7 separate regions of the Homo sapiens genome follow, and regions 2, 3, 4, 5, 6 and 7 are each linked to region 1. A link means that fine-mapping ties the variant in region 1 to the expression of a gene that starts in the linked region. Tissue or cell type: whole blood. Region 1 holds a variant in brackets; each other region holds the start of a gene. Each region is shown on its reference strand, or each on the opposite one.

Evidence for each region. PIP is the estimated chance that this variant, and not a neighbour inherited with it, causes the effect.
Region 2: it holds the start of BCORL1, and the variant in region 1 is the best candidate, but not a certain one, in a credible set for the expression of BCORL1 in whole blood (TOPMed, PIP 0.51).
Region 3: it holds the start of CDC42EP2, and the variant in region 1 is fine-mapped to the expression of CDC42EP2 in whole blood (TOPMed, PIP 0.94).
Region 4: STN1 starts here. The variant in region 1 is the best candidate, but not a certain one, in a credible set for the expression of STN1 in whole blood (TOPMed, PIP 0.76).
Region 5: NLRP6 starts here. The variant in region 1 is the best candidate, but not a certain one, in a credible set for the expression of NLRP6 in whole blood (TOPMed, PIP 0.76).
Region 6: it holds the start of ABI1, and the variant in region 1 is the best candidate, but not a certain one, in a credible set for the expression of ABI1 in whole blood (TOPMed, PIP 0.52).
Region 7: KISS1R starts here. The variant in region 1 is the best candidate, but not a certain one, in a credible set for the expression of KISS1R in whole blood (TOPMed, PIP 0.58).

What each region holds. Positions count from the first base shown.
Region 1 is chr7:50,328,384-50,332,383 of GRCh38, reverse strand. The region is part of intron 3 of IKZF1 (IKAROS family zinc finger 1); the gene reads right to left. Among named protein-coding and RNA genes, the nearest start is that of IKZF1, 26 kb to the right of the region's middle. The variant G/A (reference allele first, on the strand shown) is at 1,726.
Region 2 is chrX:129,980,394-129,984,467 of GRCh38, reverse strand. BCORL1 (BCL6 corepressor like 1) reads right to left here and starts at 1,833. Exons shown (of 14, transcript NM_001379451.1): 1 at 1,706-1,833. RefSeq lists a silencer at 768-1,004.
Region 3 is chr11:65,312,837-65,316,910 of GRCh38, reverse strand. CDC42EP2 (CDC42 effector protein 2) reads right to left here and starts at 2,045. Exons shown (of 2, transcript NM_006779.4): 1 at 1,957-2,045. It overlaps LOC105369344 (a long non-coding RNA gene), which reads left to right and starts at 2,222. Exons shown (of 3, transcript XR_007062727.1): 1 at 2,222-3,140. RefSeq lists silencers at 1,088-1,247, 1,418-1,547, 2,008-2,387.
Region 4 is chr10:103,915,958-103,920,027 of GRCh38, reverse strand. It overlaps STN1 (STN1 subunit of CST complex), which reads left to right and starts at 1,844. Exons shown (of 10, transcript NM_024928.5): 1 at 1,844-1,928; 2 at 2,372-2,566. The coding sequence starts at 2,434. RefSeq lists a silencer at 1,533-1,882 and enhancers at 1,623-1,917, 1,548-2,193, 2,053-2,382.
Region 5 is chr11:276,267-280,337 of GRCh38, reverse strand. It overlaps NLRP6 (NLR family pyrin domain containing 6), which reads right to left and starts at 1,931. Exons shown (of 8, transcript NM_001276700.2): 1 at 1,740-1,931; 2 at 731-1,011; 3 at 466-504; 4 at 1-254. The coding sequence starts at 1,768. RefSeq lists an enhancer at 81-631.
Region 6 is chr10:26,859,315-26,863,388 of GRCh38, reverse strand. It overlaps ABI1 (abl interactor 1), which reads left to right and starts at 2,431. Exons shown (of 11, transcript NM_001012750.3): 1 at 2,431-2,642. The coding sequence starts at 2,526. RefSeq lists an enhancer at 2,189-2,388 and silencers at 2,709-2,798, 2,909-3,058.
Region 7 is chr19:915,383-919,456 of GRCh38, reverse strand. KISS1R (KISS1 receptor) reads right to left here and starts at 2,124. Exons shown (of 5, transcript NM_032551.5): 1 at 1,711-2,124; 2 at 789-913. The coding sequence starts at 1,954. RefSeq lists an enhancer at 1-550 and silencers at 1,544-1,743, 2,144-2,233, 2,244-2,383.

The DNA of each region.
Region 1 (4,000 bases):
CTGAGGACTCTTGGTTAATTTAGGACACGGAAATGTGTACAAGAGAGAAGTCAGTAACTGGCAAAAATGTATGTATAAAGGAGGAGGAAAAAAATGCAAGGATTACTGAATACGGGAAGAAAATAACTAAGTTTTTACTTTTCTCACACAAAACACTTATCTGCTCTCCAGACCCCAACCCTGACATAATTCCTAAACAAAAAACTTTTAAGAGCCCCTGCTCAAGAGTTTTCAGAACAAGTCTCAATTCATTTTTTTACTTCTCTAGCATGTGTGCCATGGCTGACTGAGTAAATCTGGGGTTGCCTGAAGAGGTCACTGAGTGCATCCTCGGCTTTAAACAGTTTCATACACAACCACTTCAGAGAGGTGAGAGTTCTCTAGTTTTTAAAAAGACCACTTCAGAAGAACAAGCTACAGTCTCACTAAATAGACCATTCTGATGACTAAACTCTCCTTGCCAAAAGGAGAGTAAAGACCACATCTCTCCTTTAAGTCTAACTTAAATTCTTCAAGCAACACTTTAAATCCTTTGTTTCATTTTCTTCAGACCGGGAAGAAAATGGAGGCCAACTGAGGGCTGCAGGGCTGCTCTGCCCTCTGGCTCTGTCTCCTTCTCCCCAAACTTACACACAAACCTAGAATGTTCCTTCCACACTGAATGAAGCAATGAGGTGTGAAACCATTATTTGTTTATTCTGGGAGTGACTCACCAATCAGTATAACTTTGCACCCTCCTCATAGGGAACTGATTTCCACCATTCCCATCAATTTGTTTATTAATATGGTCTGTTATCCTTGTTGAGATTAGATTTGTCTAAAACTGAAGGATGCCAGTGGTCATAACAGCTCACAGCTTTCCAAAAGTGTTCCTTGTCACTTTCTAAAGCAGACACTCTTGCAATCTATTATTAGCAAATAATTTCCCACTTTTTTTTTTTTTTTGCATCTTTTAGCTTCTCACCATTTCTCCTTGAAATTTCAACAGTGGCAGCTCGACTTGAACTTGAGTCAGGTGGCGGCCAGCACCCTTACTCTGTCCTTTAGTCTTGCCCTATTCTAACAAATTCTTCCTTTCTCTTTTGGCTGTTTTCAGTTTGTTTATTCTTTGGACCATTTTTTTTAAAGTAAGAAATCCCTCTTCTATCCTTGGTGCTGGTCATCTGTTCTCTCCCTTTTCCCAAGTGAAGCTACGATAGCTTCATTTACCCTTCTTGTAAATCTTTGAAAGTTCTATTTTGCACAAGTTGCATTTCTTTTTTCTGTCCTTTTTACTTTGTGTCTTTGCTACTCTGTCTTCAACAAATTATGTCTATATATGTTCCATCTAACCCTCAAGGCCATTCTGTGATGCAGGTTCAGTTACTATTGCCACCTTCAAAAGAGGAAAGTGAGGCTCAGAGAAGAAAAGCCTTGCCAGAAGCTCCAGGCCAGGGAGGAGAGGGCCTGGACCTGTCCCTTCTGAGGTGTGCCTTACCCACAGGGCACTCTCCGCCCCTGCTGCTCACCCTGCATTTCAGCAACTCCATTTCCTCCTCTCGGCCCCACTGCTTCTGTCTTTTCATTTCCTGCTGTGCACTCCTTACAGTCCTTTGCACTGATGACTTATTCCCATGGAATAATGTGATGAAATATGGTACCCAGGTTATTCCCTTTATCCACGAATTCCCCTACCTTTTTATATTGTTTCCTAATGTTCTCTACATACTTCATTTATTTAATGCT[G/A]TACACTACAAATTAATGAACAGCCTGTCACCACATATGAAAGCTGGCTGGTTTCCTTCCAGAACCATGGAGGGTGGTCTCTAAACTCAGCTCTGTGAAGAGCCCTCTCTTCCCTCCATGTCTCCTTGGGCACTTCGGTCTTGTGGAATCCTCTCCCTCCTTCACTTCCTCTTCTCAAGCCTCTCCTTTGTGTCGTGCCTGGTTTGTCATGTAGGCTTTTGCATCTTTTTTGCTTTCTTTACAGTAACCTATCACTCCTGTGGCCTCTAGCCCCACTGAGGAGCATTCAATCTCCCAAATCATCTCAGTGCCCACGTCACATGGCTGTTCCCGCCTGTCCACAGGGCTGCATCAACTGCTATTTACAAGCAAAGCAAAGAGGTTTTCTAGGGTTTTTAAATTTCACAATTCTGAAATCATATTTTCTAAATTACATCCTGAAGGAAAAGTAGACTGAAAATCATGTCAAACATGATAAAGGGCAGGGCCAGGACCCATGGGCTATGACAAACCCGCCCCTGACTCCAAGGTGACACCTGTGCTGGGGGCAGCTGGGACCGAGGGCAGGACTTTGAACCAAAAGACAGCTCTGGGAACCCATCAGTAATGCCAACCAGATACTGGGTGATCTCCCACCCAGGAAAACCCACCAACAATATGACGTCCGTAAGGGACAGGATACTGACACTGTTTTGAAGGCACGTGTGCTATTCTTCACTCTCCAGGAATCGGCCTGACTTTCAGTTCTCTAAAGATGCCCTAGCCACGATGGCTCACAGCCTCTAAGGGCAGCTGCAGGGATTCCAGGGAGAGCCCATCTCTTTCTCCACAGCGACCCGAGCTGGCCTCCTCACTCTGACATCCAGGCTCTCTGTTCATTTACATGGTTAATGGATCATTTCTTCTGGTTCAGTCCCTGAGCCTCTGTGTTCTTGGGCAGGGTGTGAGCATCTGTTTGCTCCTGTGTTAAGCAGGAAGAACAGTACCCTTGGCGCTGGGTGCTTCAGGGACTAAAAAAATCAGGGAACATCACCACCCAATGACTATTCCTGTGCCACTTTTGCAAACTTTTATCATATCTATGTACTACTATTGACTTGATGTTTTTATTTAAACTGATTTTTTAATTTATATGAATGTGTTTTGAAAGGAACCCTCGTAGTGGTACAGTGCATGGTAAAACCAGTATCACTTGCAATACATAGAAGACAATCTCAAAAATAAATACATAAATTAAAATGAAACATGATCCTTTGCATCCCAACTTTGGAAAACCCTGAAATGATATATGTATCTTTCTTTGGTAGAATAGAGTAGATAATTCACAAGTTCATTTCTCTTCCCCTCTACTTTCCACATATAGTAGCCATTTTCCAATAGGGTAAAATAATTCATAAATGTACTTGTTTTCTGGATTCATCTACACCAAATGGCTTTAGCCACCATCTTTATCTGTTTGTGCCATTAACTGTGCTGCTGAGTTAAAAAAAAAAAGAACCATTATACCTAGTCCACTTGGTTTCTAAGACACATAAAAAACATACAAAATATGTTTTCTTTACTTTTTCTTTTTTTTTTTTTTTTTTGAGATGGAGTCTGGCTCTGTCATCCAGGCTGGAGTGCAGTGGCGCAATCTCGGCTCACTGCAAGCTCCGCCTGCCGGGTTCACGCCATTCTCCTGCCTCAGCCTCCCGAGTAGCTGGGACTACAGGCGCCCACCACTACGCCCGGCTAATTTTTTGTATTTTTAGTAGAGACAGGGTTTCACCGTGTTAGCCAGGATGGTCTCGATTTCCTGACCTTGTGATCCGCCAGCCTCGGCCTCCCAAAGTGCTGGGATTACAAGCTTGAGCCACCATGCCCGGCCCAAAATATGTTTTCTATACATGTAGATAAAATTCAGTTATCACATTTTCCCATTATTGCATTAGGATGTCCTATAGACATACAGTTGTGATTCTCATAAGCCTGAGAATTTTACATACATGTTCCCTCCTTGGCTATGGGGGCTTATGTAGCTGACCCACATTGATCCAGTCTACCTCATTTTACCTGTATGTCCTTCATATTCTTTTATGCCAATAGGTAGCTCTCAGTATCACAGCTCTTTCTCTTTTTAAAGAAGAAAACAGGTATTCCAGGGAACTGTTGACTCATTAGCTCATTAGAACATGGTATAATGGAGCGAGAACTAGTTTTTCAGTCAGAAATTCAGTTCAATTCTGACTCTGTCATTTCACCTTGGTTAATTCACTGAACTTCTCTCCGTCTTTGG
Region 2 (4,074 bases), not on the chromosome of region 1:
AGTCGCGGGACCCACACCCCCCTTCCTTCTCCCAGCACCTCGTCCTCCATGCACCCGGCCCCCGGGGCTCCTCGTCGTCGTCGTCCCGGCTCGTACCGCCCCCCGTCGGGGGCTCCACCCCCCCGCCTGCCCCCGCCCCCAGGACGGCCCCCTCCCCACCGCGCGCCGCCTGCGCCCTCTGCCCCGGCACGGGACTCTCTTTGGCCTCCGTTCCCCGCCCAGAAGCGGCGGCGGCGGCGGCGGCAACGGCTGCGGCGGCCCCAGCAGGAGCAGCAGCGGCGGCGGCGGCAGCGGCGGCGGCAGCAGCGCCGCCCCCGGCCCCGCCCCGCCGCCCGCCGGAGCCCCACGCCCCGCCCGCCCGCCCCGCCGCCGGACTGCTCCCCCCGAAGCCCACCACTAAGCCCTCCCACTCCCCGGCCGCGATCCGCTCGAATCCAGCTCCGCTGGGCCTGCTGTCCGTCCCTCACGCCCCTTAGGACCCGGGGTGGGGGAGCCCTGGGGTTCGCGGCCATCCCTCTCCCTCCTTCTCCAAGGGCCGGGGGATTGCCCCTGATCCCGAAACCCGGCCCCGTAACCGGAGCCTCCCTCCTTCCAGCCCTCGGCTTCGCTCGCCGACCCCTTGCCTCCAGGCCTGGCGCGAAGCGGGTGGAGGGCTTGCACGCCGGATCTCCCCTCTGGCTTGCCGGTGCTAGTATGAATTGCCCCCGATCTCATCTTCCTTCAATTTAAGCCCCCTCCCCGCCGCGCCCGGCCCGGCGGCCCCCGCCCCTAGAGCGAGGGCAGCGGAGCCAGGGCGCTCCGAAGTCATCCCCCGCCTTTTTTCCAGGGACTCGGATAATTGCCCCTGCCCCCATCACAGCACTCCCACTCCCGAACCCAGGCCCCGCCGCCACCTAGGGGTACCCCTTACCCTACGATTCCCGCACCCCAGCGCCGGGAAGAAAGCAGCCCTGAAGAGCACCCGTCGCACCTCCCCTCTGAGGTTGGAGGGCATTTTCTCCCGGTCTCTTCAACACTTCATCACGGACACCCCCCCCCCCCAAAAAAAAGCCTTTTCTCGCCCTGCCCTGCTAGCCAGCCTCCCTTCGGATCGTCGGATCCTTGGATCGGGGGTTGGAGTCAGGTAGTTAACAAGACCATAGCCTCCACCTCCCTTTCCGAGGAGTGGGGTAATTCCTATGGTTTCCCCCCCAGGATCAACCGACCCCCGTTTCCATGGAGACCCCCGCCCAGCCGGGAAGAAGACTCTCTTGGATCGTGGCGAACGAGTCTCACCTGGCTAAGAGAGAAGGGGGTCGAGAAGGGGGTAGGGCAAGTCAGGGGATGGGGTACGAAGGTGGGAAGTGGAAGGGAGCTGTCCCGAAGGGAGGGGCGAAGACATACCCAGCTCCAGGGAGCGCTACGTCCGGGGACACGAAGAGGACGGCGCCCCCGGGGGGCAAGCCGAGCGGCCGCAGGGAAAAGAAGGAACAGGGTTGGAGAAAGGCTTAAGATAGAAAGAAGCGGGTGGGGGGATACGAAAAAGCCGGGGAGTCAAAAGGGGTGGAGGGATTGGGGGAGAGAGAAAAAAGACGCACCTGTTCCCGGGTCGGCTCCGCGGGGAGGCTCAGGCCGCCACCCGGGCTCCCTCTTACTCCCTCTTAACCGCCACCCGCCTAATACTGCCCCGATCTGATGCCCCCCTCCGCCCCTTATCGCCACCGACCTCCTTCTCCTCTCTCTCGGCGGCGGCGGCGGTCGGACTCTAGGAACTGAGAGGAAGAAGGGAGGGCTCAGCAAAGCGGAGGAGAGACAGAGCCACACACTGGCAGCAGCCGCGGCGAGCGAAAGAGTGAGGGGGAGAGCGGTGTGTGTGTGTGTCTGTGTGCGAGCGAAGCCTGGTGGAGTGGGTGCCGGTCGCAGGGCTCGACGGGAAGTGGAGTCCGGCTGGGTCCGCGGGCGGCGCCAACCCCCGCTCCACCGGACTACAACTCCCAGAATGCGGCCTACGCGGGTGGGGGGGAATGGGGAGGAGGAGGCGAAGGGAGGGAGCGAGCAAGAGAGGGAGGGACGAAAGCAGGGAGCAAGCGGCGGCGAAGGGGGCAGAGCCAAGCAGCCCCGGTGACACTGGGAGGGGAGGAGAGGAGGAGGGGATCGCTGAGAGGACCGAGCGGATTCCGGAGAGGGAGGCAGCAGTGGCTGCAGCAAGCCGGGCAAAAAGCTAGACTCCTGGGAGAGGCGGAGGCGCTCAATCTGCGGGGCTGCAGGAGCCCCACGTCCCCCCCCACCTCGACGCCCCTCGAAGGGGGAGGTTGAGGAAGGGAGAGGGTCAGTGAGCCGCGGCCAAAGGGTTCTCTCTCTTTCTTCCAACGTTCTCCACCTTATGCCCCGACCTGACTTTCTCAGGCCACTGGTGCCGATCCAGTGTGCAAATCTCGAGACCCCAGATCTCCTCTGCCGGGCAGCGGAGAACAGACGCATTCAGTCCCCTTCTCCCAGGGGCCTGAGGGAGGCTCCCCTTGCAGGCAGGGCGTGACTCCCCCTTCTTCCCGCTCCCCCCCCCACCGTCGTCGCCACCCCCCCATCTCCCTCCCCGGAACCCCTCCCCTGAAGCCGGGGCTCGCCTCTCTCTCTCCCCGCCAAGACACGGAGTCCTTCTGGGGACGACTACCCAGCCCCCTCCCTTATACTGGGCCCCTACCCACCAGTATCCCCTTCTTAGCGTTGCCCCCTCACCGAAATAATGGTGGGGGCGACCCGAGTTGGACTGGTGGCTACTTTCCCTCCAAGGCTAGCCGTCCTTCGCCACGCCGACCCTGTGTAGAAATAGAGAAGCATATTAATACTCCCGTCCCCCCTCCCCCCCAGATTTGAATACCCGTGGAAGTGGCTCACAAGAAAGAGGGGTTGGTAGTGGAAGTGAGCTAGGGGTGAATCCCAATCTTCAAACCTCATCCCTCCCATGGAAATCCAGGTATTCGCCTTTTGCTTAAAAGCCATTAAATCGCTTGGGTGGGGGGTAAATTATCTAAACCCCAATGTCCATGCGACTCGAAGCGACGCTACCTTGTAGGAATAAGATACGAACTAGGTTGCCGCCACGGGAAGGAAAGTATCCCCCACCCCCGTCGCCGTCCACCCCCAAAAACACATACCCCTAGGAGAGTCAGATGGCTGAAGAAGGGGGAAGGCGGTGGGAGTGCTGGAGAGTAAAAGGACTGTGGCGGGGAGGGTCCGCGGCCCCCACTACGAGAGCAGAATCCAGATGCTAAGAGGTGGGTGGGGGGTGCGGCACAATCGCAGACTGTGTCTTTCCTCGCTTTTCCCGGAATCGCCGCCCGATCACCGTCTAACACTCGGAGTTGCTTACCACTCAGTCCCCTAGCCCCATTTGTGCGCGTGAGGCGGCCAGAGCCCGGGAAGCCCGGGCACAAACTCCGCGGAAGCTGGCCTTCGCTGCCGCCGCGCCGCCGCGGGCCTCCCTCCCTCCGCTCGCGGCCCCGCCGATCTACCTTCGCCCCCGGCCGAGGCCAGACCCCGCTCACAACTCCACGCCCCTACTCCACCCCCGGCTCTCCCTCCCCTCGCCCTCTCCCTGCGGGTCCGGCCCAGCCCCTAGCGCCGCCCCGCCCTACCGCTCGGTCCAGAGCCCAGCAAGTGCCCCGAACTCGCCCCCCGCCCCCACGCCCAGGCCAGTCTGGCCAGGCCTGGTTTCCCCCTCCCGCCGCGCCCCGCCCCCGAATCCACGTCCTACTTCGCCACCCAACTCGGCCCGGTCGGGGTTCGGCCCGCGCCCACGCCACCGGAGTCCCCGATTCGGTCCGGTGTACGGCCACCCACCCCGCCCTTGCCTGGGTGCTGGCCTGGCCCGCTGCCTGCGCCCGCCGAGCCGGCCCAAGCGCGCGGTCCGGGTCCGGGTCCAGGTGCCGGCCTCGGTCCCGGCAGTGTTGCCGCGACTCGCCACGCGGGCTCGTTCCACGCAAGATCGGAACCCACGCGGGGTGGGGGCCGCGGGAAGCAAGTTTCTTTATCCTCCCCCCGCCCCCGCCGCAGGGCCGCACCGTTCCCCCACCACCCCCGCCTCACGGCGCCCCC
Region 3 (4,074 bases), not on the chromosome of region 1:
GACAGCCTGAGTGTTTCCACAACAAATTGGGCGTCCCTGACAGCTGTCTCACTCACAGCCAGATGTACACACCCAATTCCAGATGTGGGGAGAATCGAGGGTGAGGCCAGCATCAGCGGCCCAGGGGAGAGCTGGGAATTACAACCCTCACGCCCCAGGAATTTAGATTTGGCAACTGCAAGACCCTAGGATCCAGCTTGCCACGCACAGTTTCTCATCTTAAAGCTCCCAGTCACGGCATGGTGGGGTCATTACGGCCCTTTACAGAAGTCGAAGCTGAACCTCAGAGATGTTAAGTAACATTGGCGACGTCATCCAGTTAGGAAGTGGAAGAGTGGGTACCCAGCCTGGTCCACGTGGTTCCCATGCAGTGGGCCACGCCTACTTCCATAATATGTTTGGGGAGCGGGAGAGAAAGGGGCTCACAGCTAGGCTGGGAACAGTGGGTCCCCAGATCTCCTCCATCTACATCCTGACCTTTGGCTGCCCCCGTCTGCCCAACTTTCATGTGTCCAGAGATATGAGAATGAGGTCTCCATCAGGACAGGGCTGTGGGGAGCTGGGAGGGGAGCTCCCTGCAGCAGTCGGGGAGCAGATAGGAGCATCCTAGCTCTCTGTGATTGCCCTGGACAGGAGCCCTGGACCTCCCAATGAGAAAATGACTTCCGGCAGGCAGGGATCCTCCTATCATGAAGAATATTAGGCCACCTCACACCCCCTCTTCTCCTAAATCAGGAGACTGTCCTTAAATCCAGCTCCACCTGGGACTTCCTCAGTAACCTTCAGCAAGACGCCTCTCCTCTCTGGGTCTCACCTTTCCCATCTATAAAATGGGCTGACAACGAAGCCACCACTAAAGGGCCACTGGAGATCCCACTGCAATATTGCAGGTGAGAGCGCCAATGTACAATAGCGGGGTTCAGCGGGTCACTGTAGGTTTTATCATTCATTCAGCAAATATCTACAAGGCCTTCCTTCCTCAAGCACTTCGATTCTCCGGGGCCAGTGCTTTGAACAATAGCAAAAACGAAGGGCTCCTGACCCCAGGCGTCCACCTCCTCCCGCCCTCCTAGACCTCGAGGATGCAGAGACCCTCTAGCGGCCGCTGGGTCTCCCGGGGTCCCGGTGCCTCCGGAGAGGTGCCCGGCTCCGCGGCCGCCAGGTGGCGCGCGTGCTCCCTTGATCGCCTCGTGTCCCGGAGGACTCCGAGAGCGCACCGGGGTCTCCAGCGCCCCTCCCCCGGGCTCCAGGCAGGCGGTCCCCAAGGAGCTGCGCGTTCAAGTACCAGATGGGGATTACCTGCGAGATCTTTTTGCTTCGGGGTTTCTGGTCCCACAATCGGGGAAAAAGGGGGCGATTGGGGACCCTGCCCTAGTCTCCAAGCTCTGGGAGGAGCCTCCCCCCTGTGCTTTCCGGCCTGGGCGATGTCCTAGTGTCCGCTCGGCACAGGGCCAGAGCTCGGGCGTGCGGGCCCCCGCCCCTCCCACGGGTCCGGCTCCTTAGCTCCGGCTCGGGTTCCTGCGCCGACCCCTCCCCACTCCTACCCGGGCGGAGCCCAGCCCAGCCCGGATCCGTTTCAGGACATTCGCGGCCGCAGCTAAAGATAGGAGAACAACTCACTATCGGCTAAAAATACGGCCCCCAGCCCCGGTGGGGATGCTGGGCGGCGGGGCACCCCTGGGTCTCGGGAGGGGGGCGGGGGCCCGGACACAAAATGGAGGGCAGAACGGGGAATTCGGGGTCGGGATGCGTTGCGCCCCCACGGACCGTGGCGGGCACGGGCGAGGCTGCGGGAACCCAGATGCGGGTGGGAAGCCCCATGGAGCCCTAGGAGCCCTCGAAAGGAACTGAGTGAGGTGAGAGGCAGAGCCAGGGCGCGAGCTGGGGCGGGGCGCCACAGAGATGGGCCTCTCGGGGGACCCCCGCGAAGCTGCGAAAATCCCAGCCCGAACTCACCGTGAGGCGCGCAGACGGCAGACCGGCGGACAGCAAGGTCTCAGGAGCTGGACAGCGCGGCGGCCGGACCCGACCGGCGGTGAACTTACAGAGTGCACCGCGGACCCCGCAGCCCCGCCCCGGCCCGCGGAGCCAATGCCGGGGCCGCGCCAGCCAAGCCCCTCCCCATCCCCGCCCAGGCCCCGCCCCACTCCGGGCACCGCCCGGGGCTCCCGGCGTGGGAGGTGCCGCTCCCGGGTCCAGCGGTCGCGCGCGCCCTGGAGTCCTGTCCTGGTTCTGGCGGCTGAGGGCCGGGTGGCGCAGGCGGCCTCCGGCTGTGCCCATGGGAACTAAAACCTTCGGTTCTAGAAGAGCCGGGGGAGAGGCTCCGGGAAGACCGAATTCTTCAGAAATCGCAGAGAGACCTTGGACCGGATCCTTCCCTGCAGGGCTGCGTCGGGGAAGCGCCGGCACAAGTATATTCAGCGACTTCCTTGGAAGCGCCTACGTTAGAATACTACAAACTTACAAGCTAGTTGATCAGTTTACCTCCCACTAGAAAAGACAGTATGGGAAGGCAGAGGCCGCGTGGCCTGGACCCCCGTCTTTGCTGTCAGGCTTCCAGAGTGAAGGTGGGGCTCATATTCAGACTAGTTCCTGGTCCATTCATTCTTTCAGTCAGTCAGTCAGTCATTCCTACAGGGCCAGAAACTTTTTTTTTTTTTGAGACAGAGTTTCGCTCTTGTTGCCCAGACTGCTCACCGCAACCTCCGTCTCCTGGGTTCAAGAGATTCTCCTGCCTCAGCCTCCCGAGTAGCTGGGATTACAGGCATGTGCCAGCACACCTGGCTAATTTTTGTATTCTTAGTAGAGACGGAGTTTCTCCATGTTGGCCAGGCTGGTCTCGAATTCCCGACCTCAAGTGATCTGCCCGCCTCGGCCTCCCGAAGTGCTGCAATTACAGGCGTGAGCCACCGCGCCCGGCCCAGAAACATGTTTTGAAGGGCAGGCACCGCACAGGGTGCTGGAGACAGACTGAAGGAAACTGCACCTCTCAGTGACTCAAGAGAGATTTGTTGAGTATCTACCAAGTGCCTAGCGCTGTTCTTGTCCCTGGGGATTCAGCCTCTGGATTGGGACCTGCAGCCCAGAGAAGGGAAATGGGGGAAATCCAAGTTCCCAGGTACATCATGATACCCTTCCAGGTGGGTAAGTGCTAAGAAGAGTGGGGCAGAGGAAGTGGTGGGTAGTGACGGGGTGGACAGACCTCACTTTCTAGAGGATGACAGCTATGCCAGCTCAGTGTGACCAGGATGGTTGGCTTCAATGCTGTCAGTGTGGGAAGGGCTTTTAGGGAGGCAGAGCCGGGAAGACCTCAGTGGGGGAGGCAGGATGCTGGGGGTGGGGGAAGATGCCAGACAAGCTGGGAGGTCCGGATGGGAAGAAGGGGATCATGGTAGGTAAAATAACAGCCCCCCTAAATATGTTCACATCTAGCCAGGTGCTGTGGCTCATGCCTATAATCCCAGCACTTTGGGAGGCCAAGGTGGGAGGATTGCTTGGGTCCAGGAGTTTGACACTGACACCAGCCTGAGCAACATAGTGAGACCCTGTTTCTACAACAAATAAATTAGCCGGACATGGTGGCTCAAGCCTGTAGTCCCAGGTACTCTGGAGGCTTAGGTAGGAGAATTGCTTGAACCTGGGAGGTTAAGGCTGCAGTGAGCTGTGATCACGCCACTGCACTCCAGCCTGGGCAATAGAGCAAAAACCCATGTAAAAAAAAAAAAAGAAAAGAAAAAAAGCCCACATCCGAACCTGTGTAATCTATGAATATGTTTTGTTACATGAGAAATGGAAATGAAAATTGCCAATGAGGGCTGGGCGCCGTGGCTCATGCCTGTAATCCCAGCACTTTGGGAGGTCAAGGCAGGTGGATCACGAGGTCAGGAGATCGAGACCATCCTGGCTAATATGGTGAAATCCCGTCTCTACTAAAAATACAAAAAAAAAAAAAAATTAGCCGAGCATGGTGGCAGGCACCTGCAGTCCCAGCTACTCGGGCGCCTGTAGTCCCAGCTACTCAGGAGGCTGAGGCAGGAGAATGGCATGAACCTGGGAGGCGGAGCTTGTAGTGAG
Region 4 (4,070 bases), not on the chromosome of region 1:
CTGCTCTGCTTATACCACCTGGGTGTGGTCCTTCCCAAGGCTGGCAGTAAGCATGGAGTCCAGGAGGGCTCTTTTATCCAACACTCTACCCTTGAGCGCCATGAGCATTATTCCTGAAATCATCTCAGGCTCTGACACTTAGTAGTGATTTCCTCCTTTGGGTTTCACCCTGGAGCAGATGTGTACAGTCAGGAAAATGTCACTCAACCTGTCTCTCCCCATCTGACAGGTCAGCAGGAAGCACCTGTCCTACTGGGTGTGTTTTCTTTGCAAGGGCCTTCCTCCTATAAGAGAAGGTATCTTCTCTCTCTCTCTTTTTTTTTTTTTTTTTTTAATTGAGGCAGAGTCTCACACTGTCACCCAGGCTGGAGTGCAATGGCCCGATCTCAGCTCACTGCAACCGCTGTCTCCCAGGTTCATGCGATTCTCCTGCCTCAGCCTCCCGAGTAGCTGGGATTACAGGCGCACGCCACCACATTTGGCTATTTTTGTATTTTTAGTAGAGAGGGGGTTGGTTTCCGTATATTGGCCTGCCTGGTCTTGAACTCCTGACCTCGTGATCTGCCCGCCTCGGCCTCACAAAATGTTGGGATTACAGGTGTGAGCCACCGCGCCCAGCCAGTGTCTTCTCTTAATTAAATCTTAAACCCTACATTTCCTAGTGTTCATTGCAGTAGAATCTGGGCAATGTATTTTACCAAGGACTCTTGTTTTTGAGCTTCTTAAATGGCCGGGGAGGTAATTAAATGCCATGGGTCTAATGACACACACACTTTCCATTCCAGCGGCTCCAAGTTCCTTCTCTGATAAATAGTTTAGCAATTATCTCTTTGGCCACCACCTGCCTCCCCCGGGAATGGTCTGCCAGGGTGATCTGTACTCCCCTGCCATTTTCCAGAGTCTCTGTAAATTAGGAAGAATTCCTGACGTCTCGGGTAACGTAGCTCTTTATGGGAGTGGAACGTGGCTATCTTTCCTCACTTTAAAATAGAAATTCTGGAGACTAAGCACCATCAAGGTGGCCATGATTTACCAAAATGCCAGCTTTTCAAAGTTCTTAAGTGTACAACCTTCCAGACTGTAGACCGAACAAGGGTAAAGGAGACAAAATGTATTGTCATGATTTTGCACGGCTAGTCTCTGGCAGAGTCAAGACCTCACATTCACTCGAGGGCTCAAATTTAGATATTGACATCTCCAAGTGAAACTAGAGTCCTAAGTGTGTGAGTCAGGTCACTTACCAACTGTAAATGAACATTTAAAATATGCCACAATGCACTCGTGGCACTGCTTACTTTTTATCTGTTTTACATATCAGGAATCAAAAAGAAAAATAGTCTGATCCTGACCCAACCTCTAGGAGGCCCAGGTTCAGGGTCCCGCCACCAGCAGGAGGAGGGGTGAAAGGTGACTAGAAGAGCGGCGTTAGAACTGCAGGAATTTCAAGGTCGCCTCCTAGGCCTCAGCGGTGGAGGCTAGCACGAAGGCGGGGCTGCAGCGCTGCCTGAACCAAAAGTACGCTGCGCTGAGGCGGGGCACGGAACGGGCTGGACTTCGGCTGGATGGGGCCTAGCGGATGGTTGGGCCGCGGCGGGATGGGGCGGGGCTTCGGGCGGGATGGGGCGGGGCTTCGGGCAGGATGGGGCGTGGCCGCGGCGGGATGGGTGGGGTCTGGGTGGGATGAGGCGGGACTTCGGGAGAGATGGGGCGGAGCCGTGGCGAGGCGCTGCAGCAGAAAGGAAATGCGCTGGCGGGGAGACCGGGGTTGGTCCCTGGCGGGGCAGGGGGCGGGCTCAGGCCGGAACTCCAGAGACGACCTCAGCCAACTGCTCCTGCGCCGGGCGGGGTCGTCGCCGCCAGCGGCTCCGAGCGCCGGAAGGGCCAGGTCTCAGGGCTCCTGGAGCTGCAGGCGGCGGGAGGGGCTACAAGTGGGTCCATTTTTTAGTATCTTTTTTCCTCCTTTTCTTGGCTCATCCCCAAAAGCGGAAAGTTTAGGGCAGAGCGACAGTCAGACCCATCCACTATGCCCCAACACGTGCAGGGCTGCGAGGGCGCCCGTTCCTCCCGGGACCCCAAGCGGTTTCTGCTACGCCTGTACAGACGTATCTTCCCAGAGTGAAAGTTGATGTTTAGCCGTTCCGAAGTTGGTGCTTTGTGGGAAGGAGAACAGCGGGAGAGCCGTAAGGAACGCAGGCGTCCTGACGTGAGGAACGCCTCTTAACACGCCCCGTGGCATGGAGTTTGACAGGGCCCTGGATCCCTGCGTTCACCCCTCCTGGAGTCCTGGACGCCCACCTGGGAGCAGCGTCAGGGCCGTGCCACTTTGACCCACGTTAAACGCATTGCATCCTCATTTCTGTGTCCCATCTAGATGCTTGACTCAGTGATGCAGAACCTTTCAGAGTTAGCTGGAAGCCACAGCCCTGCCTCTTGATGCAGCCTGGATCCAGCCGGTGTGAAGAGGAGACCCCTTCCCTCTTGTGGGGTTTGGATCCTGTGTTTCTAGCCTTTGCAAAACTCTACATCAGGGATATCCTGGACATGAAGGAGTCCCGCCAGGTGCCAGGTATGTGGCTAGCCACCCTGGGATGCCCTGGGCTGCATCTGCCACCCTTTCCCAAAGTCTCAGAAAGCTGGGATTAGAGGCTTTTAGGAGAGCCTTCCCTGCTGCAGGCTTTGAAAGGGACCTAGCCTGGACCTTCGCATGAGTTCATTTATTTGCAAGGTAAAAAAAACAGTCTAAATCTTTTTTTTTTTTTTTTTTTTTTTAGTAGGTGTTTGGGGGAGTAACTTTTGTACTGGGGTTTTTACCTCCATTTAGGGTCTTTCATGCTTAAAAATGCTCATTTGTTTTTCTTTGGCCCTGCTCCTGTTGGAGAGATCGCTGGGCCAGATATTCCTAGGCCTGGCTCCTTTCCTAAATGTGCCACTTACCTGGTCCGGGCATGTGACTCACCTTCTGCAAAGTCTGGGTTTCTTTGTAAAAATGGAGCTTAACCCTGTGTAATGGAATCTTTTGATTCCTGATATGTAAAGGGGGTTTGTTTTCTTTTGAATTAAGCAGAATCAAAATATTATAAACTCCCTGAGAGGAAGAACATCATCTGTCTTGTTCACCTTTGTAATCCCAGGGCTTAGAACAGTGCCTGGCATATAGTGGGCCCTCAAATAGAAATAGCAGTTGAAGCAACAAGGCATTATACATGTAAAGTTTAAATTTTCTTTTTTTTTTTTTGTATTAGAATAGTGGCTACTAGAGATAGGCTTATCTTACCTAAAAATATAACAAGTATAGTTTGGGGTGGATTTAAATAATTCACGTAGCTGTGTAATAATTCACAAATAGCCACATGTTTACTGTGCTATTTGAGAAGTTTGGTTAAACTTTCTTTGCTATTTTGAGTGAAGCTTTCCAGTCAAGGTCCTTCTGAATAACAAACTATGAGTTAGAAGTAGTCAAGAATCTCAAGCATCCACAGTTTTAATGAGATAAGGTTTTGTTTGTTTCCAGTTAAATGTACAAATATATTTGGATGACCTTATGCTAATGCCTTTTGTACAGATTTTTCGCCACACCTTTATTTCCTAATTATTGTTGGAAATGGTCTGTGTTTTCCCTTGGAAGGCAGCCAACCTCCTCCACAGTTTTCCATTTTCCAGTCTGGTTTTCTTCATAGCTCATCTCTTCAGGAAGAAATTAATTCACACCAAATTCTAGCCTTGCTTAATGATCTTCTGCAGGTGAGAAAACAGGTACCAAGGACATGACAGGGGCTTAACTCTACCTGTAGGCAAAAGACTTTATGATGTGTTAAAAACAAACCAACAAAAACAGGACCAGTGATCTTTGATTTATCACTGGTGAGAATGTTTCCAAGGTGTTTTAAAAATGAAACCTCACGGTTAAAGCAGACATCAGCTGACAGATTGGATACTTTTAGACCTGGGGCCCCCAACCCCTGGGACCACAGACCACTACTGGTACATGGCCATTAGGAACTGGGCCACACAGCAGGAAGTGAGTGGTTGGCCAGTGAGCATTACTGCCTGAGCCCCACATCCTGTCACAT
Region 5 (4,071 bases), not on the chromosome of region 1:
CTGCAGCACCACGGTCAGCGGCCGCCGGCCCTCCTCGTCGCGGCGGAAGAGGCGGTTGAAAGTGTGCGTGTCCGAGCGCCGCGCGCGCCCCGGCTCAGGCTCTTCCGCGGGCCCCATCGCCTCCTCCGGGGCGGCGCTCTCGGGCGCGATGAGCAGCTTGGTGAAGCGCTTGGTGATCTTCACGGAGCGGGCGTTCCTCTCCTTCACCCGAGCGTGCAGCTGCAGCACGTGCTCCCGGTACTTCTTCTTGTACTCTGGGCGCAGCGGGAGACAGCGCGGGGACAAGGGTCGGAGGTGGGGCAGGCTGCGCCCTCCGGGAGCCCACGCCCTCCCCGGCCCTGCTCAGGCCTCAGTTTCCTCTACGGGACCACAGCCCACGCCCCTGGCGGCCCTCCCACCCCGGTCCTCCCCGGGACCCTCCAAGTGGGGTTGGGGACACTCGTGCCCCCCCAGCGAGAGACCCACCGGACACGGAGAGCAGCGTCCCGGAGCCGAGCCCGAGCCCTGGAAGGGAAACTGGGGTGAGGTTCCGCCGAGGGCGGGAACAGGGGAAGGCGCCACGGGGGTCCGAGTCACCCTGAGGAGCACGCAGGGTCCTACCCCTGGGGCCCGCGAATTTGTGGATAAAACGCGCGGGGGCCGGGGACCGCGCCGGGGCTTCTCCGGGAAGCGGGAAGGAGGGCAGCCCAGCCTCTGCCCAGACAGGAGGGACCTCCCGCGCAGAACTCACGCTGCAGCCGCCGCTCCTGGAGCTGCGCCGCCACGTCGCGCGCGTCCGCCCTCTTGAGGGTCTTGCGGGCCACCTCCAGGGCAGGCTCCGGGCCGTAGAACTGGGCCAGCTGCTCCGCGAGGTCCACGGCGTCCGCGCGCTCCAGCCGCCCCCACGGGATGCTGCGTCCGTCCGGGCCCACGTCGCGCAGCTTGTGGCGGAAGCGCTTCAGCTGCTCTTGGCTCAGTTCCTCCAGCGCAGCCAGGAGCAGCTCGCGGGCCACCGCGAGGCGCGGCCCCGTGCTGGAGGCGGGCGGGCGCGGGTCATCGGGGAGCGGCCCTCGGGTGACCCCCGCCCGCCCCCGACTCTGGCGCCGGAGAACCCACCGCGGGCAGGGCCTCAGGGAGTCCCGGGCCAAGCATCGTCTGGATCCATGGGGTGGCGGGAGGGGGCAACGGGGAGTGACCCCAGACTTTTCCCTCCCCCGTCCCCGGACCCGGGTCGGGGCGTCTTGGTGTTCTTCGCCCTCTGAGGGTGAAGTGGGCACTGGCCGCCGCTGATCTGAGCTCTGGGGGGCACCTTCCTCCCCTGCACCTCCCTTTCTGCTTCTGTCCTTCCACACCCCAGGACAGGTCACATGCCCCGAGGGAGGTATTTCCAAGGAACCCTGAGCTCTCTTTCCTCGCTTTCCTTCTTTTCCCTCTCTTCCCGATCCCGGAGCAGAACTGGCCTCTTTGGCAGCAGACACTGCCAGGCCCAGGCTGTATTCCTGGGCCCCCACCCCTGCCACACTTTGGTGGGGCCCAGCTTGGGGCCTTGCACCAGGGCCTGAATCTGAGCCCCTGGTGGGGAACAGACTCCACAAATGCCCTCTGTGGGGAGGCAGTGCTTGGCTCCTGAGCCTGGGAGTGAGGGTGGGGGAAGGATGTGGACAAGGGTGGAGAGCCTGAGGAAGTCAGCGGGTGAGGTGGAGGCCCCAGAGGGCTGAGACCAGCCGGTTCCCAGTGACCACCCTGGGGCCAGCACTCACCTGGAGCAGGGGGCCTCTGGCTGGTCCATGGGGTCTCTTCCTCCCTGGGTCTAGCACTCCGGGGCAGAGGTGGGGATCAGAGAGGTGATTCCTTCACAGGCTGAGCTGGAGCCAAGTCTTAGAGGTTGTCCAGCCCGGTCCATTCCCCGGGTCCACACACCGCAGCTCAGCTGGCACGAGATGCTGTTGGGCACCGTGGCACACGCAGAGCATTGCCCTTTAAGGGCTCCGTTTGGTGACCTTTGATTTTCTTACTCCTTTATCCCATTAATGTTCCCCAAGAACCCCTGGGTGTGGCATCGGGGCATGGCTGTGAGCAGGCAGCTTCAGAGCAAGGTGGGTTGTGTGAAGGAGGTGGCTGGCTCAGAGCCAGGCCTTCAGCTGAGGCCTGGGGAGAGGTTAGACTCTGAAGGCAGGGGTGAGGAAAGACTTCCAGGTAGAGGGAACAGGGGGGACAGCCAGCAGCACGCACCATATATGGGAGGGAAGGCAGTCTCCAGGGAGACGCCGGGCAGGGGTCTGCACTGCAGCCTCCCCACCCGACCTGAACAGCTGGCGGGCAGAGGCTGGACGTCAGGGGTGTTCGAGACCCCTGGGACCAAATGTGAGAGTGTGTGGAACGGGGGGGTTAATATGTGGAAATGAGAGGTGCTGGGTAAAATAAGGCTGAGACCTACTGGGCTGCATTCCCAGGAGGGTAGACATTCTAAGTCACAGGATGAGACAGGAGGTTGACACAAGATACAGGTCATAAAGGCCTTGCTGATAATGGTGTAAAGAAGCTGGCCCAAAACCACCAGAACCAAGATGGCAATGAGAGTGACCTCTGGTCATCCTCACAGCTCATTACTCTAGTTACAGTACATTAGCACACTAAAAGACACTCCCACCAACACGATGACAGTTTATAAATGCCATGGCAAAGTCAGGAAGTTACCCTATATGGTCTAAAAGGGGAGGAACCCTCAGTTCTGAGAATTGCCCACCACTTTCCTGGAAAACTCATGAATAATCCACTCCTCGTTTAGCATATAATCAAGAAATAACCATAAAAATGGGCAACCAGCAGCCTTTGGGGCTGCTCTGCCTATAGAATAGCCATTCTTTTATTCCTTTACTTTCTCAATAAACTTGCTCTCACTTTACTCTTTTTTTTTTTTTTTTTTTTTTCATGGAGTCTCGTTCTGTCGCCAGGCGGAGTGCAGTGGCACGATCTCGGCTCACTTCAAACTCCGCCTCCTGGGTTCAAGCAATTCTCCTGCCTCAGCCTCCTGAGTAGCTGGAATTACAGGCATGCACCACCATGCCTGGCTAATTTTTGTATTTTTAGTAGAGACGGGGTTTCACCATGTTGGTCAGGCTGGCCTTGAACTCTTGACCTTGTGATCTGCCTGCCTTGGACCTCCCAAAGTGCTGGGATTACTGGTGTGAGCGACCATGCCTGGCACTTTACTCTTTATGGATTTGACTCAAATTCTTTCTTGCATGAGATCCAAGAACCATGATGTCTGGATCAAGACCTCTTTCTGATAACAGTTTGGCTGTGTGTCCCCACCCAAATCTCATGTTGAATTGTAATTCCCAATGTTGGGGGAGAGACCTGGTGGCAGGTGATTGGATCATGAAGGTGGATTTCGTCCTTGCTGTTCTTGTAATAGTGAGTAAGTTCTCATGAGATCTGGTTGTTTGAAAGTGTGTAGCATGTCCCACTTTGCTCTCTCTGTCCTTTTGGCCACATGAATATTTGCCTGCTTCCCCTTTGCTTTCTGCCATGATTGTAAGTTTCCTGAGGCCTCCCCAGAAGCAAAAGTCTGTACAGCCCACAGAACCAGGAGCTAGTTAAACCTCTTTTCTTTATAAATTACCCTGTCTCAGGTATGTCTTTACAGCAATGTGAGAATAGACTAAGACAAATTATAACAAGTAAAGAGATTGAATTACTAATTACAGGGAAAAAAAACTTTCCCACAAAGAAAAGCTCTCAAGGGAATGCTTCCCAACTCATTCTCTGAGGCCTGTGACACTGATACCAAAACCAGGCAAACTCATCAGAAGAAAACTGTAAACCAATATCCTTCATGAATACAGGCATGAAAAATCCTTAACAAACTACTTCAGAAACAGAATCTATTAGCATATAAAAACAATTACAAACCATGACTAAGTGTGTTTTCTCTAAGGAGTGCAAGGTTGGTTTAACATCCAAAAATCAATTAATGTAACATATCATAGTAATACTTAAGAGGACAAAAACTGCTTGATCATCTCAATAGAGACAGAAAGAATAGTCTACATTTTCCAACACCTCTTCATGGTTAAAAACACTAAGCAA
Region 6 (4,074 bases), not on the chromosome of region 1:
CACTGCAATCTGTGCCTTCCAGGCTCAAGCAATCCTCCTACTTCAGCCTCCCAAGTAGCTGAGTCTACAGGTGCTCACTACCACACCTGGCTAATTTTTCGTGTTTTTTGTAGAGACGGGTTTTTGCCATGTTGCTCGGGGTGGTCTGGAACTCAAGCGGGAGTAGTTCGTCATGTTGGTCTCCCATTTTGGGAGTCAAGTGGATTCTCCCACCTTGGTCTCCCAAAGTGCTGGGATTACAGGCACAAGCCACTGCACTGGGCTGTCATACACTTTTAAATGACCAGATCTCAGGAGAACTCACTCGAGATCATAAGGAGAGTTCCAACAGGATGCTGCATAACCATTCGTGAGAAATCTGCTCCATGATCCACTCCCGCTTCCCCCAGGTCCCAACTCCAACATTAGGGATTACAATTCAACATGAGATTTGGCAGGGATGCAGATCCAAACCATATCAATCAGTAACCTAGGAAACTTGACGGCATTTTCAGTGCCCTTAGCTAAACTCCTTAACCTATCTAAGCTTAAATTTCCTTATTTGATAAGGAAGGAAAATAATATTTATATTATCTGTCTCTCAGAGTTGTGAGAAGAAATCTGACAGTACTTTTTATTTGTATTTATCATCATCATCATTATTATTCATTCATTGCTCAACTGCATGGACAGTACGTTGAAAATAGTAAATTAGTATCACCTCCCTAATCACTTCCCCAATGTTGTTGAAATGTGTCAATATTTGAATATATACAAACTGAGTGATTTCTACAGTTAAACCTCAAGTAGAGACCAAGATCAATAATACATTAAATTTTAATAACTTGGATTAAGTCGTGTTTGGGTTAACGATAAATATCAAAAGATAACTATTACACCTATTCCAGATAATAAATGTATTACTTTCCATAATATCTGGAATAGGTATAATAGTTATCTTTTGATAGATTCCTTGATGGAGAATCTGGTGGCAAGGGGAAGTTAACGTTTTTAGTAGGAAACTGAGTTTTTCCTTTCAGAGGTCGAAGAGGGAAACTGGTTCCCTGGGGCCCTGAATAAGGCCCCAGTAAAGGCAATATTCAATAAATACCTGGTGCTGGCAATTTTTAATTTGGTTGAGTGATGTTTTTACTCCTAGTTATTTTGATTCTAAATGACTTTATGGAGATACATGAACATATGTCCAAAGTCTTTGGACAACACTTTTCATAGCTGATTATATCCGAAGCATTTAATGTTCCTGTTGAAGTGAAGAGCTTGAAATATAGGGCCTTTTGAGACTATTCCAAAGCAGGTGATAAAAACAAAACAAAACAAAAATCCAGGAGCAAAAAACGAAGGATCAGGGTGGGTGGCTCATGATTGTAATCCTAGCAGTTTGGGAGGTTGAGGCAGAAGGATTGCTTGAGGCCAGGGGTTCGAGACGAGCGAGGGCAACATAATTTGATCCCTGTCGCTATAAAAAATTAAAAAGCTCAGCCAGGTGTAGTGACCGACGCTTGTAGTCCCAGTTACTCTGGAGGCTGAGGCAGGAGGATCGCTTGACTTTAGGAGGTCTAGGCTGCAGAGACCCATGATTGTGCCCCTGTACTCCAGGCTGGGTAACAGTGAGATCCTGTCTCAAACAAGCAAACAACTCCCACCCCTAAAAAAACGTGCACATGACCTTAAAAGTGTAGGAAGATTACATGATAAGGAGAGTCAGAGAAAAGAGAAATTAGGACAGGAAAGCACTACAAGCTATGTATGTTTATTTTATAATTGAGTCTTTAAGGGTACGGAGTATTCGTACTCAACTTGTACCCCCAGTGTCTAGTACGCTGCTTGGTAAACAGCTGGCAATCAAGAAATGTTTGCTAAATTTTAAATGAATTGATGGGGGCGGAACTTCAGAAAGTAAAGCCTGACTCGCTTTATTTCTAAGAAGGCAGAGGAAGTAAAAATCTAGTTTTCCGTACTCTGTCCCCTTTTTAATCCTTCTCTGAATGGGTGTCCTTGATTCACTGACATTTCCTAATTAACCAAGTTCTGCCAAGTTTCACATGAAACTTGGGGAACCGATTTCATTCCCCCAGTATCACCCTGTGGCGCCACCTTCCGGAGCTGTGAGGAAACTCCGGACTTCCCCCCAACACCGCCCCCTCCCTCCACCCTCGGTCTCCGCTTTCTGCGCTCTGCCGCGTTGGTTTTCGGAGGTGTCTGGGCGCATGCGCTTTGGACGGGCCGCCTAGCCTAGGAGAGACTACAATTCCCAGAAGACAGTGCGAAAGAAAAAAAAAATCCCGCGGTCCGTGGGGGTGGGAGAAATAAACGCTCGCGAGAGAACGAGGTTCAGGCGGCTGCACGAAGGGGGTGGAGGGGGGCTGGAGAGAGTGAGGAGGAAGGGGAGGAGGTGCCGTCCCACAATACCAGGCGGGAGGGCGGGTAGGCGGTTTGTATCCGGGCTGTGAGGTGCTCGGAGCCTCGGCGGACCTTGCTGCCTCTGTCTCTTTAACGCGAGAGGAAGCGATGCAGAGGGGTGGAAAATGGCAGAGCTGCAGATGTTACTAGAGGAGGAGATCCCGTCTGGCAAGAGGGCGCTGATCGAGAGTTACCAGAACCTGACTCGGGTGGCAGACTACTGTGAAAACAACTACATACAGGTGAGGCGCTCTGGCGGCCGGCGGGCGCTGGCCGGGTCGAGGACCCGCCGGAGTGACCAGCCCACTGGGCGGGGTGGGGAACTGCCCTGACCTCAGCGGCTGCCACCAACCCGAGCCCCTACCGCAGCCCCAACCCCAGCCCCAACCGGGGACAGAGCGAGTGGCCGGGCTGAGGGAGTCGGGCTGCGATACAGGAAGTGGCTGTGGTGGTGGAAACCGATAGAAGGGGAGAGAGAAAATGGGCGAGGGAGCCGGGAGCCCGCCGCTGCCGCAGCCCGGCGCCCCCCTCGCGTCCGCTTCCCCCAGGGCCCGGCCACCGGGGTCGCGCGCCCCCCAGGTAGCCTCCAGTCCGCAGGGCTGGAGTCCCGGAATACCCCCGAGCTGCCGCCGCGCCGCCTCTCTGCGCCGGGAGAGGAGGTCCAGGACGGGAGAGGGGAGAGGAGAGGGCAGGGACGAGGCTGAAGCCGCAGAAGGGAGAGGACCAGCGGGGTGTGTGTTGTGTGTCGGCGGAGGGTGGGGTGGGGGCGATTATGTCAGTTTCAGCCCCCAGAGGGTGTGTCTTTTATTTATTTATTTATTTAAAAAAAATTTGTCATGAGTCACATTACACCGACCTCCCGGAGGAGAGGAGGAAGCGGGTGTGGGGAGTGAGGGAGGGCGTTTGAGAGAAGTTCATCTTAAAATTCCTTTAATTGAAGGTTTGTAAATCTGTCTGCTTGTCCATTTTCAAGTCGGGTTTTTTTTATTTTTTTCCCCCTCTCATCGTTTTCACTTCCGCCCCACCATAATGTATTCTAAGAGGTTGTTAGGGCTGCTATCATTAATTATCAAACACGAATTGTTCTTAACTCCTTGGAAAAACGGCTTACCCTCCCTTCTCCCAAAAGTTCTTGAGCTGTAGGCTTCATAAGTAACTTAAAATAGACTGGTGTCATCGCCGGTTGCTTATTTTCTGAGGTTTCTCTCTTAACAAGCTAAGTAAATGTATAGTATGTGAATCCAAATACAGAAACGAACAGAGGTAGCCTCTGAACTACAACGTAAAAATATCTGTTATTGTAAATTAGAAAACTCTTGGGACTTTGTGACAGATGCTTGTTTGTTCGTTTCTCTTTGGATGATTGGAAGTGAATTGTGTGTGGTAGTTTGTTTTGAAGATCTTTAACTGTGTAAACCAACAGTTTGCGCTAGAAACAAAGTAGCACAGTCCTTTGTATAAATATAAAGGCACCAGGAATGCTCTTGCTTTTGGTAAGGCAAGGCCAAAACGTGCTTTGAAAGGTTAGGGTTATTGCAATTCAGAACTAAATTGTTTATAGAAATGTCTCCCATGTGATTATAATTTTTAAGAACCGATGTTTCTGTGTTGGCAAATGCTTCCCCTCTTTATTTTTAGAGGGAGATGCTGTTTTCAGAATGTTTTGAATATTTC
Region 7 (4,074 bases), not on the chromosome of region 1:
TGCGCGGTTGGGAGCCTGCCCTGTCCGCCCGCCCTGCTGATCCCCCTACGTGTGCGAACACTCAGGCACATACACGGGAAGTGTCCTGGGAGGAGTGTCCAGTGCGGGTTGAGGGGACAGAAGGTGGGGAGACTGGGAGAGGAGGGCAGGAGGATTGGGGAAGTGAGGGAGCCCTTGGGGGGCGGCTGATACCCCGAGTCTGAGACAGGGGGGCTGCGTGGGATGGAGGGACAGGCGGGGCAAGAAGCCTCAGGGCCTCAGTAGCCCTTCCTCACCAGTGACCCGGGTCCCCGTCTGCATCCCTCCCCCATTCCCGCCCCCCACTCCAGTTCTAGGCTGCACCACCGCCCAGCCCCTTCCCGCAAGCTGGGCACCCCAGCCCCTGGTTCTCCTATGCGTTGCCTCGCGCCCCGCCCAAGGTCCGTCCTCCCTTCCCACGTGGGCTCCCCCTCCCCACATGCGCCCGCCCCCCGCTCCGGAGCTCATCCCCTCTCCTCGTCCCCACGTGCGCCTCCTCCCCTCCTGCTCCAGAGTGCACCCCTGCCCCGCCCCACCATGCGCCCCCTCCCCTCCAGCTTCTGAGTGCATCTCCCTCCGTCCCCACGTGCGCTCCCTCCCCTCCTGCTCCGCAGCGCACCCCCCCTCCCCGTCCCCACGTACGATCCCCTCCCCTCCCACTGCGGAGCGCACTCCCGCCTGTCCCCAAGTGCGTCCCCTCCCCTCCCACTGCGGAGCGCACCCCCGCCCGTCCCCAAGTGCGCCCTCTCCCCTCCTGCTCCGGAGCGCACCTGCTGGATGTAGTTGACGAACTTGCACATGAAGTCGCCCAGCACCCAGCCGGGCAGCGGGTACAGCAGGGCCGTGAAGGGGACGCAGCACAGGAGGAAGGTCACGTCCGTGGCCGCCAGGTTGGCTGCGGTGGGGATGCGCGGGCGCTGGGCGTGGGCGCCACTGGCCGCGGGAACCGCCCAGCGCTCCTGGCCCTGACCCCTGGCCCCCACCTTGGTCCGAGTGACCAGCAGGATGGCTCAGGGAGGCCCCCCCCTCCCCCAGCGCCCCTGGCCTCCTCGGGCGGAGAAGTTGGGGCGCCTTCTAGTAATTCCCCCTTACATCTCAAACATTACGCCTCCGGCTCGGATTTCCTGGCCATTCCGGCAGAAATCGGTTCTGCTGGGCCCTGTCCGGGCTGGGGGAGCCTAAGCAGGCCCCTGACCCTCTGAGCCTCAGTTTCCACAACTGCAAACTGGAGACAATGGTGCCGGCCCAGCAGCCACCGACTGGGCTCACAGCTGTGTGTGATAGGGGACCCCAGGACACAAATGCATAAACAGGCTCAGAGAGCCACCGGGGCAGGGGTCGCAAACTAAGGCCCGCGGGCCAAGCCAGCCCCTCCCCCAGCCCTTTGTTCAGCTGACACCGAGCCGTTGGCCCGCGCTGCACCGGGGCGAGCCCCGCGAGTGGCCAGGTCGAGGTTTCCATGTGCCACACTCCCCACCCTCCGGCCCGCCCGGGCCCGCCCGCGCTGGAGTTTGCGACCTCTAGCCTCAGGTGCAGGGACCACAGGGAAAAGATTCGAGGTTGGGGGGGACCCCTGCAGGGGACAGAGCCGGGTCCGAGAGGGCCCCGATGCGTCGCGAGAGGGCGCCCCAGGCCGCTCGGCCCTCGGAGCCCCCGGGACGGCAGCAGGTGCGGCGCAGCGCCCGCACTCACCGATGTAGAAGTTGGTCACGGTCCGCATCGGCTTGTGGCGGCAGATGACGTAGATGACCAGCGAGTTCCCCACCAGGCCCAGCAGCATCAGCGCCGCGAAGAAGAGCGGCACGAGCCAGGCGTCCACGGCCCGCGGCGAAGGGACTGGGCCGTCCGAGGCGTTGGCGCCACAGCCCGGGCAGCCGGAGGCGTTGGCCGGTGCCCCCCAGGACGCGTTGGGTCCGGACGTAGCCACGGTGTGCATGGCCGCGCGCACCTCCTCCTCCCGGCCGCCCTCCAGGATTGCGCCCTGGCACCGCCCCGGGGACCCCTCCGCCCGACCGCCCGGGGGCTGCGCCTGTGGAACTCAGGAAGGGGCTCGGCTGGGGTCCGCAGGGTCCAGAGGGCAGCTGTGCTGGGCTCGGCGGCTCCTCTGCCGGCGCCGCTGCGGCCGAGCGTTTATAGCCCGTGCCCCCCTCCCCTGGCCTTGCCTTCCCGCCTCTCCGGCAGCCGCTCGCCACTCCCTCCCCTGCCCACGCGCCCTCTATTCACCCAGCGGCAACCCCCCTATTCCCTCCTCCCGGTGCAAGGTCGGAGTGAGAGCGCGGGAGGGGGCTGGAGGGGGCGGAGCAGGCAGGGGGTGGGCCGCGTGGAGGCCGCTGTGGACCTGGAAGGACCGACCTTAACCAGCGAGTAGACGCTCAGCCCGGACTAGGAGCCCAGCCAAGGCGCGAACTCTAAGGCCTGTGAATATGGGAAGGGCTTTGACCCTCGTAGGGGCTGGGGCTCCAGGGGGTGGGCCCAGCCTGGCGGGGAGGCCAGCCCTCAGCGGAGACCCTGAGTGAGGATAGCTTGGGTTTGTCCCCAGGACCCTGGAGAGCCATGGAAAGTTCAGGGCAGGTGAGGGACGTCCCCGATCTGGTGGTTTGGGACTGAATGTGTCCCACATGACTGACAAGGGGTGTCTGATACCCGCAGGGACACTAGCAGCGGGAACCAGGTGGAGGGCACCTTGCAAACGCCACAGCCTCATTATTATTATTATTATTACTGATTTATGTATTTATTTATTTTTTTGAGACAGAGTTTCGCTCAGGTCGCCCAGGCTGGAGTGCAGTGGCTCCATCTCGGCTCACTGCAAGCTCCGCCTCCCTGGTTCACGCCATTCTCCTGCCTCAGCCTCCCTAGTAGCTGGGACTACAGGCGCCCGCCACCTCGCCCGGCTAATTTTTTGTACTTTTAGTAGAGTCAGGGTTTCACCGTGTTAGCCAGGATGGTCTTGATCTCCTGACCTCGTGATCCACCCTCCTCGGCCTCCCAAAGTGGTGGATTAGAGGCGTCAGCCACCGCGCCCGGCCTTTTATTATCATTATTGAGACAGGGTGTCGCTCTGTTGCCTAGGCTGGAGTGCAGTGGCATGATCTCGGCTCAAAGCAACCTCCGCCTCCCGGGTTCAAGCAATTCTCCTGCCTCAGCCTCCCGAGTAGCTGGGATTACAGGTGCCTGCCACCATGCCCGGGTAATTTTTGTATTTTTAGTAGAGACCAGGTTTCACCACGTTGGCCAGGCTGGTCTCGAACTCCTGACCTCAGGTGATCCACCCTCCTCGGCCTCCCAACGTGCTGGGATTACAGGCGTGAGCCACTGCTCCCGGTCCAGCTAATTTATTTTTAAATTTTTTATTTTTTATTTTTTTGCAAATAAAGTTTTTTTTTTAATTTTATTTATTATTTTATTTTATTATTATTATACTTTAAGTTTTAGGGTACATGTGCACAATGTGCAGGTTAGTTACATATGTATACATGTGCCATGCTGGTGTGCTGCACCCATTAACTCGTCATTTAGCATTAGGTATATCTCCTAAGGCTATCCCTCCCCCCTCCCCCCTTAAATTTTTTTGTAGAGACAAGATCTCACTAGGTTGCCCAGGCTTGTCTTGAACTCCTGAGCTCAAGCAGTCCTCCTGCCTCAGCCTCCCAAAGTGCTGGGATGACAAGCATGAGCCACCCAGCCTGGTCAGCACAACCTTGACTCCATAATCCCACAGCTGGAAGTGTACCCCAGGATGACATCCAGGAGGTTCCCCCAAAGTCCATCCTGCAACAGAGTCCAAGACATTTGGTCATCATGGAGTAATACACAGCGAAGAAAAAGGTGCTTCCATTTGCATAAAAAAAGACAAAAAAGGGAGGAAAAAAAATGAATAGGCCGGGCACAGTGGCTCATGCCTGTAATCCCAGCACATTGGGAGGCCGAGGCAGGTGGATCACTTGAGGTCAGGAGTTCCAGACCAGCCTGGCCAACGTGGTGAAACCTGGTCTCTACTAAAAATACAGAAATTACCCGGGCTTGGTGGAGGGTGCCTGTAATCCCAGCTACTTG